Homo sapiens: one gene and its partners. The protein of the gene in region 1 interacts with the protein of each later gene in a pairwise test. Each region holds a gene or a part of one and is shown on either strand. Other genes may lie near its edges.

What was found.
Region 2: the proteins of UBE2E2 (region 1) and MARCHF3 interact in a two-hybrid assay, tested with the Homo sapiens proteins (one large-scale study listed by BioGRID and IntAct).
Region 3: the proteins of UBE2E2 (region 1) and RNF103 interact in a two-hybrid assay, tested with the Homo sapiens proteins (2 studies listed by BioGRID).

The regions. Positions count from the first base shown.
Region 1 is NC_000003.12:23,528,248-23,531,983, reverse strand, and holds part of UBE2E2 (ubiquitin-conjugating enzyme E2 E2), read right to left. Parts: intron 1-3,736.
Region 2 is NC_000005.10:127,020,376-127,024,111, reverse strand, and holds part of MARCHF3 (E3 ubiquitin-protein ligase MARCHF3), read left to right. Parts: intron 1-3,736. UniProt on the Homo sapiens protein: E3 ubiquitin-protein ligase which may be involved in endosomal trafficking. E3 ubiquitin ligases accept ubiquitin from an E2 ubiquitin-conjugating enzyme in the form of a thioester and then directly transfer the ubiquitin to targeted substrates.
Region 3 is NC_000002.12:86,613,866-86,617,365, reverse strand, and holds part of RNF103 (E3 ubiquitin-protein ligase RNF103), read left to right. Parts: exon of another isoform or gene 1-949; intron 950-3,500. UniProt on the Homo sapiens protein: Acts as an E2-dependent E3 ubiquitin-protein ligase, probably involved in the ER-associated protein degradation pathway.

The DNA of each region.
Region 1 (3,736 bases):
TTCAAGCGATTGTCCTGCCTCAGCCTCCCAAGTAGCTGGGATTAGAGGTGCCCGCCACCACACCCAGCTAATTTTTGTATTTTTAGTAGAGACAGGGTTTTGCCATGTTGGCCAGGCTGGTCTTGAACTCCTGACCTCAAGTCATCCGCCTGCCTTGGCCTCCCAAAGTGCTAGGATTACAGGTGTAAGCCAACATACCCGGCCTATAACACAGTTTTAAAACATAAACTAAGGCATTTATATAAATAACATGCCCAGTTCATAGAACTATATTAGTATAATTATAGTAGTTACAATTTACTATTTTAGTTATATTACTAGTTACAATTAGCTGTAATTTAGAAACCTTTTCCTTCTTAAATTTTATTTTTAAAACGTAATATTAGTGCATCCTACCTTTGCCCTGTGATAGCTAGATCACCACTGTATGCTGCTTACATGTAATTGTGAAACATGACCATATCATTTGTAAAACACTTCAACTGAAAATAATTAAGTGCAAATCAGTTTTATAACTACGAAAATAATTAAGTGCAAATCAGTTTTATAACTACTAAAACTGTTTAATAAAAGTGTTATGTAAACGGCAATAAGATGTGAATATTATTGATTAATATTATGTTCATAAATGTTCTTAAATTTTAAGTTGAAATATACAAAAATCTCAGGGTTCTAAAGACAGTCTTTTGGTACCCTATGTTCAAAATAGCTCTGAACCAAGAAAAACACACATGCAGATCTCTGCAGGTGCTGCCACTCCACCAGGGCATCCAGCATCCAGTCAAACACCAGATTTATGTAATTTACATGATGCGAAGTCTCAGAAAGGGCAAATCTAGAGACTTATGTGGTTGTCGAACAAGAGACATCATTCTCAGGTTAAATTAGTACTTCTAATGAGAACTGCCCTTCTAGCATCATGCCAGACCAGATAATCCATGACACCTACATACACATCTTAAATGCCTAGAAATGTTGAAGAAAATATAACCAACATTCTTTAAAATGCATAGCAAAATCTGTAAGGGGAATTCCCAGAGCCCAGAATTAAAAACCAAAAATTATAGTAAGCGCAACAAGCTGAGACTGCACCTGCCATGGGTGGGGTTTTGGGAAGAGGGAAGGGAGTAAAAGATGGTACTCAGTCTTAATAAAGTGGAGGTTTGGGTTTTGATGCCCTCATGGAAAAAGAAGATGAAATCTTAGGCCTGTATGTTGCAAGAATTTAGAATTGAGCGCCCTTATATCAATTAGGAAACTCGAATGGCTAGTCTTTCAGTAAATGCATGGACTTGAAAAGATATGCCTTATGACAGAGATAGCAAAGAAACTTACCAAAGAAAGCGTGGGCTCTAGAATGAGAAGAGAAATGTTTTTCCTGAGAATTCTAAATCCTAGATACATATACTGTGTAAACACTAGCTAACAAAAACAGCTTAAATGACTATATTATCAGATCAAAATATGTTTAAGGGAAAAAGCATTGTTAGAAACAAAGAACGTTACTGATAAAATAAACAACTCATCAAGAAAACAGTAACAATTCTGAATGTGCTGTATCTAACAATATAGCCAAAAGTATACAAAGTAAAAATGTGCAAAATTATAAGGAGAAAATGACATAGCTATAATCAAAGAGGGACATTTTCACCACAGTAACTGATAGGTCAACCAGACTAAAGATTAGTAAGGATATTGGAGATCTGAACAATTGGATAAACAAAATCAAGGGAGTGAATGAAGACACAATCCTACACTTAATGATTAAGGAACATTTAAGAAACATTTGTAAAAACTGATCCCATGCTAAGCCACAAAAGAAGCTTTACATATTTCAAAGAATTGACATTATTAAGACCATAATGTAAAGTCAGAATCTACATATAAAAGATCCCCCTATCATATGTTTGGAAACTGAAAAACTCATTTTCAAATAATTCTTGGATCAAAGAAAAAAATCAGTTACTATTATTGCTGAATGACAATGAAAATATTGGGTTGCCAATATCAAAATTTTGTGACTCAGCTAAAACAGTTGTAAAAGAGAAATCTACAGTTTCAAACACATACATTAGGAAGGAAGACAGATATTTAATGAGTTAAGTGTCCAACTCAGGAAGGTAGTAAAAGAACAACAGAGTAAACTCCATGAAAGAAGAAATAAAGACACTAGCCTAAGTTAATGAAACAGAGACTATCTCGTGATATTAAAATTTCTCTGGAGAAGGCAGAGTGCCTATCCCTTTAAGTGCTAAATGAAAAGATAAAATATTTTTACGATCCCAATTTAACCAATGAGTGGCTTACATAATATTGATAATTAACCCTCAAAACAACTCAATAGGGAAAATAATATTATTGGCAACCACTTGAAAAATGATGAAACTAAGGCAAAGGGAGGTTAAAGAACTGGCTCAAGATCCCACAAGTGGTAAGTGGAAGCCAGAATTTGAACACAATTGTGCTGATCCAAAAGCCTACGGTTTGTCTCTCAGCATCAATGCCTCTGTTCTTTCGTTAAAAATTTATAATTCTGGGATAATTGTAGATTCATGTACAGTTGTAAGAAATAAAGAGATCCCATGTATTTTTCACTCAATTTTCCCCAATGAAAACATCCTGTATAACTACAGTATACTGCAGGAAACTGACATTAATACAGTCCACTGACCTTTTCCAGTTTCATTTTTATGTGCACTCATGCATATTAAGTATATTTAGTTCTATGTAATTTTATCACATGTATAGATTTGTGTGAATACCACCAGTCAACACACAAACAACTCTATCACAAACATTCTTCATGGTACCCTGCGATAGCCATAGTTGCCTTCTCCCTTTACTTCAATTCCTGGCAACTACAACTCTGTCCTCATCTCCACAACTTTGTCATTTCAAGAACGCTATATAAATGGAATCGTATAGTAGGTAACCAATTGAAATTGGTTCTTTTCACTCTGCACAATTCCCTTAAGATCCATCCAAGCTGTTGCACGTGTCAATAATTTGTTCCTTTCTTACTGATGAGTAGTATTCCACGGCATAGATGTGGTAGAATAGGCAGATAAACAGACATGAGGAGGAGAAGGGCTGCCCTGAGAAAAGGAGTCTGGAAAATCTCATGCCCCAGGGATCACCCCAAACAGGCGTGCTAGATATGAACAGACAGGAGGGGAAATACCTAGGCAGAAAGGAATCCCCCTTAAGACCCCAGTGATTGCTCACTCTGCCAGTTAACCTGCCAGAATGTAGCTAGATGCATGCTAAAGGGAAGAGGGCAAAGGAGAAAATTCCTAAGAGATACGCAGAAGCAATTTGTGTCCAACATCGGGTTCACGCGTGCACACCAATAGTAAGGGAGGGTCCCACAACCTTGGGGCGGGAACTAGGTGAGGGAAAAGGCAGGGACTTAAGGCAGATGCAGAAAACTAAACAAAGTAAAAAGGCGGAGACTTAAGAAAGAGGCAGGAACTTCAAGAAAAAATCTGAAATCATAAAAACCCACCACTCTCGGGGTGCTGCTGGCTCACTCTCTTTCAGCAGCTCGCCCTGCCTCATCTTTTCAGAGTGTACTGTCTCTCTAGATAAACTCCCTACTCTGTATTTTCCTTCAATGAATTCTCTTTCTCTGGCTAAACCAGTAGCTTGGCAGAATTCTTTCTCCAAATAAGACTAAGAACCAAACAGTAATAGATGTACCAATTTGTTTACCCATTTACCCACTGAAGGGCATCTG
Region 2 (3,736 bases), on another chromosome or scaffold:
TTCTCTAAGGATGTCTTCAACTCCCACCCTAGGCTAGGTCATCTCCCCTGATTTCTCTTTTGTTCCCATACCCCTTGTCATATCTTGAAAAGGCAGCTGACTCATGAGTCCTACTTTGAAACTTGGGACAGCTTCACTGTAATGTCATTTGAAGTTGAAAATGGCTTGGTTCCTTTTGTCATCCAATGCAGGTGACTAAGCTTTGGCTGTGGGAGGTTTAGGGGCCTTTGAAGAGCAAAATGGTGCTTGACCTGGAGGCTGCTAATGTCTGAAGTTCAGCACGAAGGGGAAGCTTGACATTTGTTGAGGGAACCTTTTTTTATTTTTTATTTTTATTTATTTATTTATTTATTTATTTATTTATTTATTTATTTATTTTTTGAGACAGAATCTCGCTATGTCACCCAGGCTAGAGTGCAGCGGCGCAATCTCAGCTCACTGCAACCTCCACCTCCTGGTTCAAGTGATTCTCCTGCCTCAGCCTTCCGAGTAGCTGGGATTACACGCATGCACCACCACACCTGGCTAATTTTTGTATTTTTTAGTAGAAATCGGGTTTCGCCATGTTGGCCAGGCTAGTCTTGAACTCCTGACCTCAAGTGATCTGCCCACCTCAGCTTCCCAAAGTGCTGGGGTTACAGGTGTGAGCCACCATGCCCAGCCTGAGGGAAACTTTTTAAAAAAAATAATTCCAGCAATTTTTTATTTTATAAACTAATTTTTATAATACAGTTGACCCTTGAACAACTGTACAGGTTTGAACTGTACAGGTCCACTTATATAAGCAGATCAAAAATACAGTATTGGCAGGGTTTGAAAGCCACATATAGGGAGGACAGAGTTTTTATATGTACATGGATTCCTCAGGACCAAATAGGGGACTTATATTGGTGGATTTCATTATATATGGATGTCCTGCAACCAGTCCCTCGTGTATACTGAGGGAAGACTGTAGTTTTCATTTATAAATCTCCTTTTGTTTAGAAAGCACCCTCTACATAGTCATGTTTAACACATGGTCTGATGGCTTAGGTAAACACTAGTCCTGGACAATGGGTTACTGAGGTCGTGTACAGACCATGCGTCCATGTGTACAGACCAAGGATCAGCTGAATTAAGCCTAACTACCTGAAGAGGCCATTAGGATAGCCTTTTTCTATTGGATCTTATGGGGCTTTAAATGATTGCAAGAGATCAAGGTCCCCTATTTTCTGTCTCATCTGGGAGATTGAGCCTCACTTAATGCAGGTGCTTTCTTCTCATATCTGCCTGCCAAGAAGAAAATAGAGAATTGAATGGTTAAGCCTAGGAGGTACTTAAATGTTTAAGCCCACATAGAAGATGAGCAACCCCAGATTAGGTCATGAACTCAAATGCTGGTTTCTCTTGGGTCTTGCAAATCAGGAGTACCTGTTTCTGCATATCCTGGGGCTTCTGCTTTTGCCTTTGGATCCGGGGGTTGGGAGGACTCAAGGGACGTTCCAGATGAGAGTGTAGAACCAATTATGTGCGGACCCTTTCTTGCAACTAGTAGATGTTCTCCCTGTGGAAATTTGCTTTGGCATTTTCCCATATCTTCTTTTCAGTGTCCTAACTATTAAATCTTGTTCCTCTTACACTTTGCACATACTGAGGTTCTCAGTCAGAAAGTTCTTACCTTTTGTTTCCCTAATTTCAACTTACTCCTTAATTCAGCCTCCAACTTCCAATACTGTTGTCCTTCCTTTGATATTCTCTTTCCCCATCTTTTCAGGTAAGAACTCCACTTTATAAAAGCTCTGTTACCATCAGTGTCACCATTAATCTTTTCCCTTCGAGAGTAATGCATTTTTGACCATTCTCAAAGGACTTGCTTAGAGCATTCCAATGTGATTTTCCGATGGGATATTACATGCTCTGACAGCCTACACAGTAAAAAAGTGATTAGCCTCACAAAACCTTAGTTCTCACCAACATTGCCCATCCTTGCCAGTGATACCTCCCCCTTATTTGTCTAATTACTCTTACCACCTCCCGCTCACTTATCTATCATTGAGAAACAAGATCATATGGCTCAAATAGCAACACACATATTTATTACAACAAGATGAGGTTTTCTATAAAACAAAAACAAGTATACACAGAATATGGAGAAGGGCAGGCCTACCCTGATTTCTTTAAAAACAGGACATGTGGACTGGTGTGTCTTTTGTTGATAGATTCTTAATTTGTTGTTTTCACTAGCTATGGTCTGTTTGTCTTTTGAGGCTAAGTTATTACTTTTATAGCTAATGTCAACATTTGTCACTTTTTTCATTCCCTTCAGAATTATTGCCAGTGAGTTTCGGGTTTTTCTTCATTTATTTTACTCTATTTTTTGTGTTTTGGGTGATCTACCTAATTAAGTTGTGTTGTTTCTAACCTCTTCATTTATTTTTCTACCACTTTCCTGCCCCTGGCAACATCTCACAGTTAGATACCATCCTTACATTGAATGAATTTCCACTTGCACTGCAAATTAGCAATGAAGACATTAAATGGAATCCCGATAGTGACCGTTTCAAGAGCTAAGGCACCATTTACTATTCTGTTTTAATTATGGTCTCTTAGCAAATTTTCACCAGTTATAATGTTCACCCCATTTTCCAAGTAATGCTTCTCAAATACTGTATGAAATTATGAAATCTGTGTGTATTATATTTTCTGCTCTCTGTTACATGCAAAATTTATAATTCTAAAAATTTCTTGTAGGAAAAATTCTTATTAGACTGGAATGGTTAATTTGGTTTCTTGCCATCCTGCTTTTTGCATGTTGTGAACCACTAGACATTGATGTAATCTTTTATTTGACTTCATTTCTAACCCCCACCTCAGTTCCCCAAGCAATAATCCTACTCCATCCCTTTCCTCCATAGTGTGTGTGTTGGTGGGGGGTGGGTATTAAATGGATATTTTTTCTGGTCCCTAATATTTTCACTTTTTAAAACTCTACATGGCTGAAAAAAAAAGCCAGTGTCAGTTGATGATATCTTAGTCTGTTTGGGTTGCTGTAACAAATAGATCAAGTAACTTATAAATAGCAGAAATTTGTTACTCACAGTTTTGGATGCTGGGAAGTTCAAGATCAAGGTGCCAGCAGATTTGGTGTCTGGGGAGGGCCTTCTTCCCCACAGATGGTGCCTTTTCACCATAACTTCACGTGGCAGAAAGGGCTAGCTAGCTCTCCAGGGTCTCTTTTTATTTTTATTTTATTTTATTATTTTTATTTATTTATTTATTTATTTGAGACAAGGTCTCGCCGTGTTGCCCAGGCTGGAGTAGAGTGGCACAGTCTCGGCTCTGCAGTCTTAACCTCCCGAGCTCAAGCAGTTCTCCCACCATAGCTTCCCGAGTAGCTGTGATCACAAATGCGCGCTACCATGCCCAGCTAATTTCTCCATTTTTTGTAGAGACATGGTTTCACCATGTTGCTCAGTCTGATCATGAACTCCTGAGCTCAAGGGATCTGCCCAACTTGGCCTCCCAAAGTGCTGGGATTACAGGCATGAGCCACCACAACCAGCCTAGGGTCTCTTTTTATAAGGGCACTAATCCCATTCAGGAGGGCTCATAATCAATTCTCAAAGGTCCCACCTTCTAATACTATCACATTGGGGATTAGGATTCAATGTCTTTTTGGGGAGATATAAATATTTAGACCATAACAGATGGTCAAGATTTTTTTCCTCTTTTCTGTTCAGGTAAGTCTACCTCCTTA
Region 3 (3,500 bases), on another chromosome or scaffold:
GTTGACTGCAGAAAGTGAAACTGAGGGTAAGGGGAGACCACTGTATTTTAGAAGAAGCTGACTAATTTGTTCTCTGTCATTTGTTTTAAGTCTATGAGGAGTGTTTTCATAAATGAAGATGCACAGATGGCAGCCAGTTCAATCCTCTTCATATTTTTAAGCTTTTCCAGGTCCATGTTACGTATAGTCTCTGTAATGTGAACAGAATTTATTTTAGTTTTCAAGGTAGCAACATACATATGACATCTTTACCAATGACACACTATGAAATACATGTAGAACCAAGTGCTCTTTTTTCTAAGTTATTCCTAACATTGTTTTTCTCCTTTGTCCCTAACCCAAGCTCATATCTTTCATTAGCTATTCATTTAACAGTTTTGTGGATTCTTTGGCCCCAGTCTTCATAGCATTACAAATAGAAGATGGTTACTTTTCTTTCAAAAGACCCTTGGTCAGAGAGGCAGATGGCACAGTGGATAGGCTTCTGAAGTGGAGAAGTTAGCATAATTTATGGGTTTTATGGATTTATCCTCCTCCTAACATTTCTGTTTCTCCGTTTTGACTTTTGTCATAGTTCAAAGAAGGACATATTTGTTCCCTACTGGCTGTGTTACATCATATGGAATTTAAAGTCACTGGAATTGAGGTAGCAGTGAGAAGCATCATATGATTTAAAATAAAGCTTTGGGTCAATATTTACTGAAGTATTACATCAATATATTTCCTGTTTGGCTGACAAGAGTTAATAGCTGATTTTAAACTTGTTTATCTTTGCTCCTAGACAAAAGTTTTGTTCGAGGAGATTCTAAATTACGTATTTCTTTCTTGATACTGCTATGGAGGTGAAGCACATAGCAAGCCACTTTATCTTATATTTTGTATTGGTAAAAAATTTTATAAATTCTATGTAAGAATACAAAAAAATTAAAAGACCACTGTTTTTTGTCAATCACTTGTCCTTACTCTTAATGGTTTTATATAGTTTGCATGTATATACTAGGTTGGCTTATGATTTTGAAAGTAGAGACTCCCTATTATAATGAAATACTGAGAATGCAGAAAATATCATAGCACAATACTCTCATTGTTCCAGGGAGTTATGTTACTTAACTAAACCTGGATGTCGTTGTATGGAGATTAACAGTATTAAAAGGGGTATGCCACATGGTTTGATCAGTAATAAACCTCACCTCTAAATAATGGGCATTTTAAAATGCACTGAATTAAACATCTTTATGTCTGACTGAGGTCAAGAACATTAATATGCAGTTGCTTAGCAGGGTACCATTTATGCCACTGTTTGTCCAGAAAACATCTTGGTACAGGTTGCTGGGGAAGGGACTTTGATTATAACAGAAATCAAAAGCTTAAGAGTTTCCTTTAGAGACTCTGTGTAATCAGAACTAGAAGAATGAGTTATTAAACTGTAAGAAGCTGAAATTGTTTGGTTTGACATAAATACTTATTGAGCACCCATATGAGTTGGGCACTGTATTAGCTGCAGGGACTACAGTGGTGAGCAAGTGTGGGGATGCCAGAGGCAGATACCCTGGGAAAGGGAATGGAAAGATTGCTTCACTTCTAGCCTGTATTGCCAGGTCTGTTCCACACCTGGAACTCAAGCTGTACTTTGTCCAGTTTTTTTGTAGTCTTTAAAAATGTTCCCCACATACAGTGTTCCTTCCTGAGCTGCTGAGGAAAATGTCTCCCCTTTTAATGAGACCAGCCATATGAATGCCACTCAGAATCATCATGCATCCTTCTAGGATATGAGCTATAAATTGGGGACTCTTACTGGTATGACATAGTGTGTGTGTGTATATATATTATATATATATATATATAAGGCATATGTATATATATATATTAGGCTGAGAATATTTTGTTGTGCTGTGTGACTCAACCAGATGAGTTATTTTGTGAAAATATTAGCATTTTTATAGTGGTTGGTTAATTTAAACTCCACCAAATTTAATTTATGCTAAACCTTCAGTTGAATTATATAACTATGTAGGACATTGGACACATTTTTAATTGCATAAATATAACTATAAAGTAATATAAAATGCTTTCATGCAATGCCTACAAGATTTTTCATTTTTGTGTAGCTCTGTCAGTCAGGGATCCTTAAACTCTTCAAAACCAAATGCTAGAACACGTTGCTGAATAAATAAGGCCCTGGCATTGAACATTGTCTTGTACCTGCCCCAGGTATGTTCCCAACTCTTTTCACTCACTTCTACTATCTCTGCTATAACCAAGAGGTACCTGGGAAGAACCCCTCTCATTCCTCCTTCTTTTCCTAACATTGGAGCTCTTATCACATGTCTCAAAGATACCTGTGCAGTGAACAAGATCTTCACTGAAAGATGCCTCCAGACTTAGGAACTAAATATTTACACTGGCGAGGCAACCTCTAAACTCCTTGGAGCAGTGTCATTCTGCACACAGACCTGAAATGTTTGGGTTATTTGCAACCTTGATCAAGAAATGGGATAATGCCTGAAAAGTGAGTTATTTTTAAAAGAGGGCAAAGAGTAGAGAGTATGGTAGTATGATTGCACAGATACTTCTTAATCTTCCTAAGGAATCTGAAAAATAAGTTAAACTTGTCTTTGATTATTTGACCAAAAGAACTACCAGATTGACTCTTGAGTGGTAGCAATAAAAATAAAATAAAATAAAGAACAAGAGGCAATAGGCGCCTGCTTTGCTTGATCTTCCTAATTTTCTAGGTACAACTTTTTTTTCTCTCTTTTTTTTGAGATGGAGTCTTGCTCTGTTACCCAGGCTGGAGTGCAGTGGCATAATCTCGGCTCACTGCAACCTCTGCTTCCCAGGTTCAAGCGATTCTGCTGCCTCAGCCTCCCAAGTAGCTAGGATTACAGGTGTGCACCACCACGCCCGGCAAATTTTTGTTTTTTTTAATAGAGGCGGGGTTTCGCCATGTTGGCCAGGCTGGTCTTGAACTCCTGACCTCAAATGATCCACCAGCCTCAGCCTCCAAAAGTGCTGGGATTAAAGGCATGAGCCACTGTACCTGGCCTTCTAGGTAAAACTTATAAAGTACTTTTGGACCAGAGAAAAATGTAAAGCTAGGGACTTACTGGGTAGGGAAACGTGTGAGCATCCTTCAAAAGAGCTTTCACCTATTAAGTGCATGTCCCCAGATTGCCTTCTTCCTGGTTACTTCAGCTGTCTGAGTATTTGAATAAATTGTATCTGCCTCAATAAGACCACTTATTTTCATTAAAAAGTACTATCAAAACCATGGTTGGGTGCAGTGGTTCATGCCTGTAATTCCAACACTTGGGAGGCCGAGGCAGAAGGAACCCTGAGGCCAGGTATTTGAGGCTGCAGTGAGCCATGATTGAGCCATTGCACTTCAGCCTGGGGAACAGAGTGAGACCCTGTCCCTTAAAAAAAAATGTAATATCAAAACCATTTGCTTAATGCCCTAAATTGTGTATATGTATTCATTAAGCTTCAAACTTATGTGA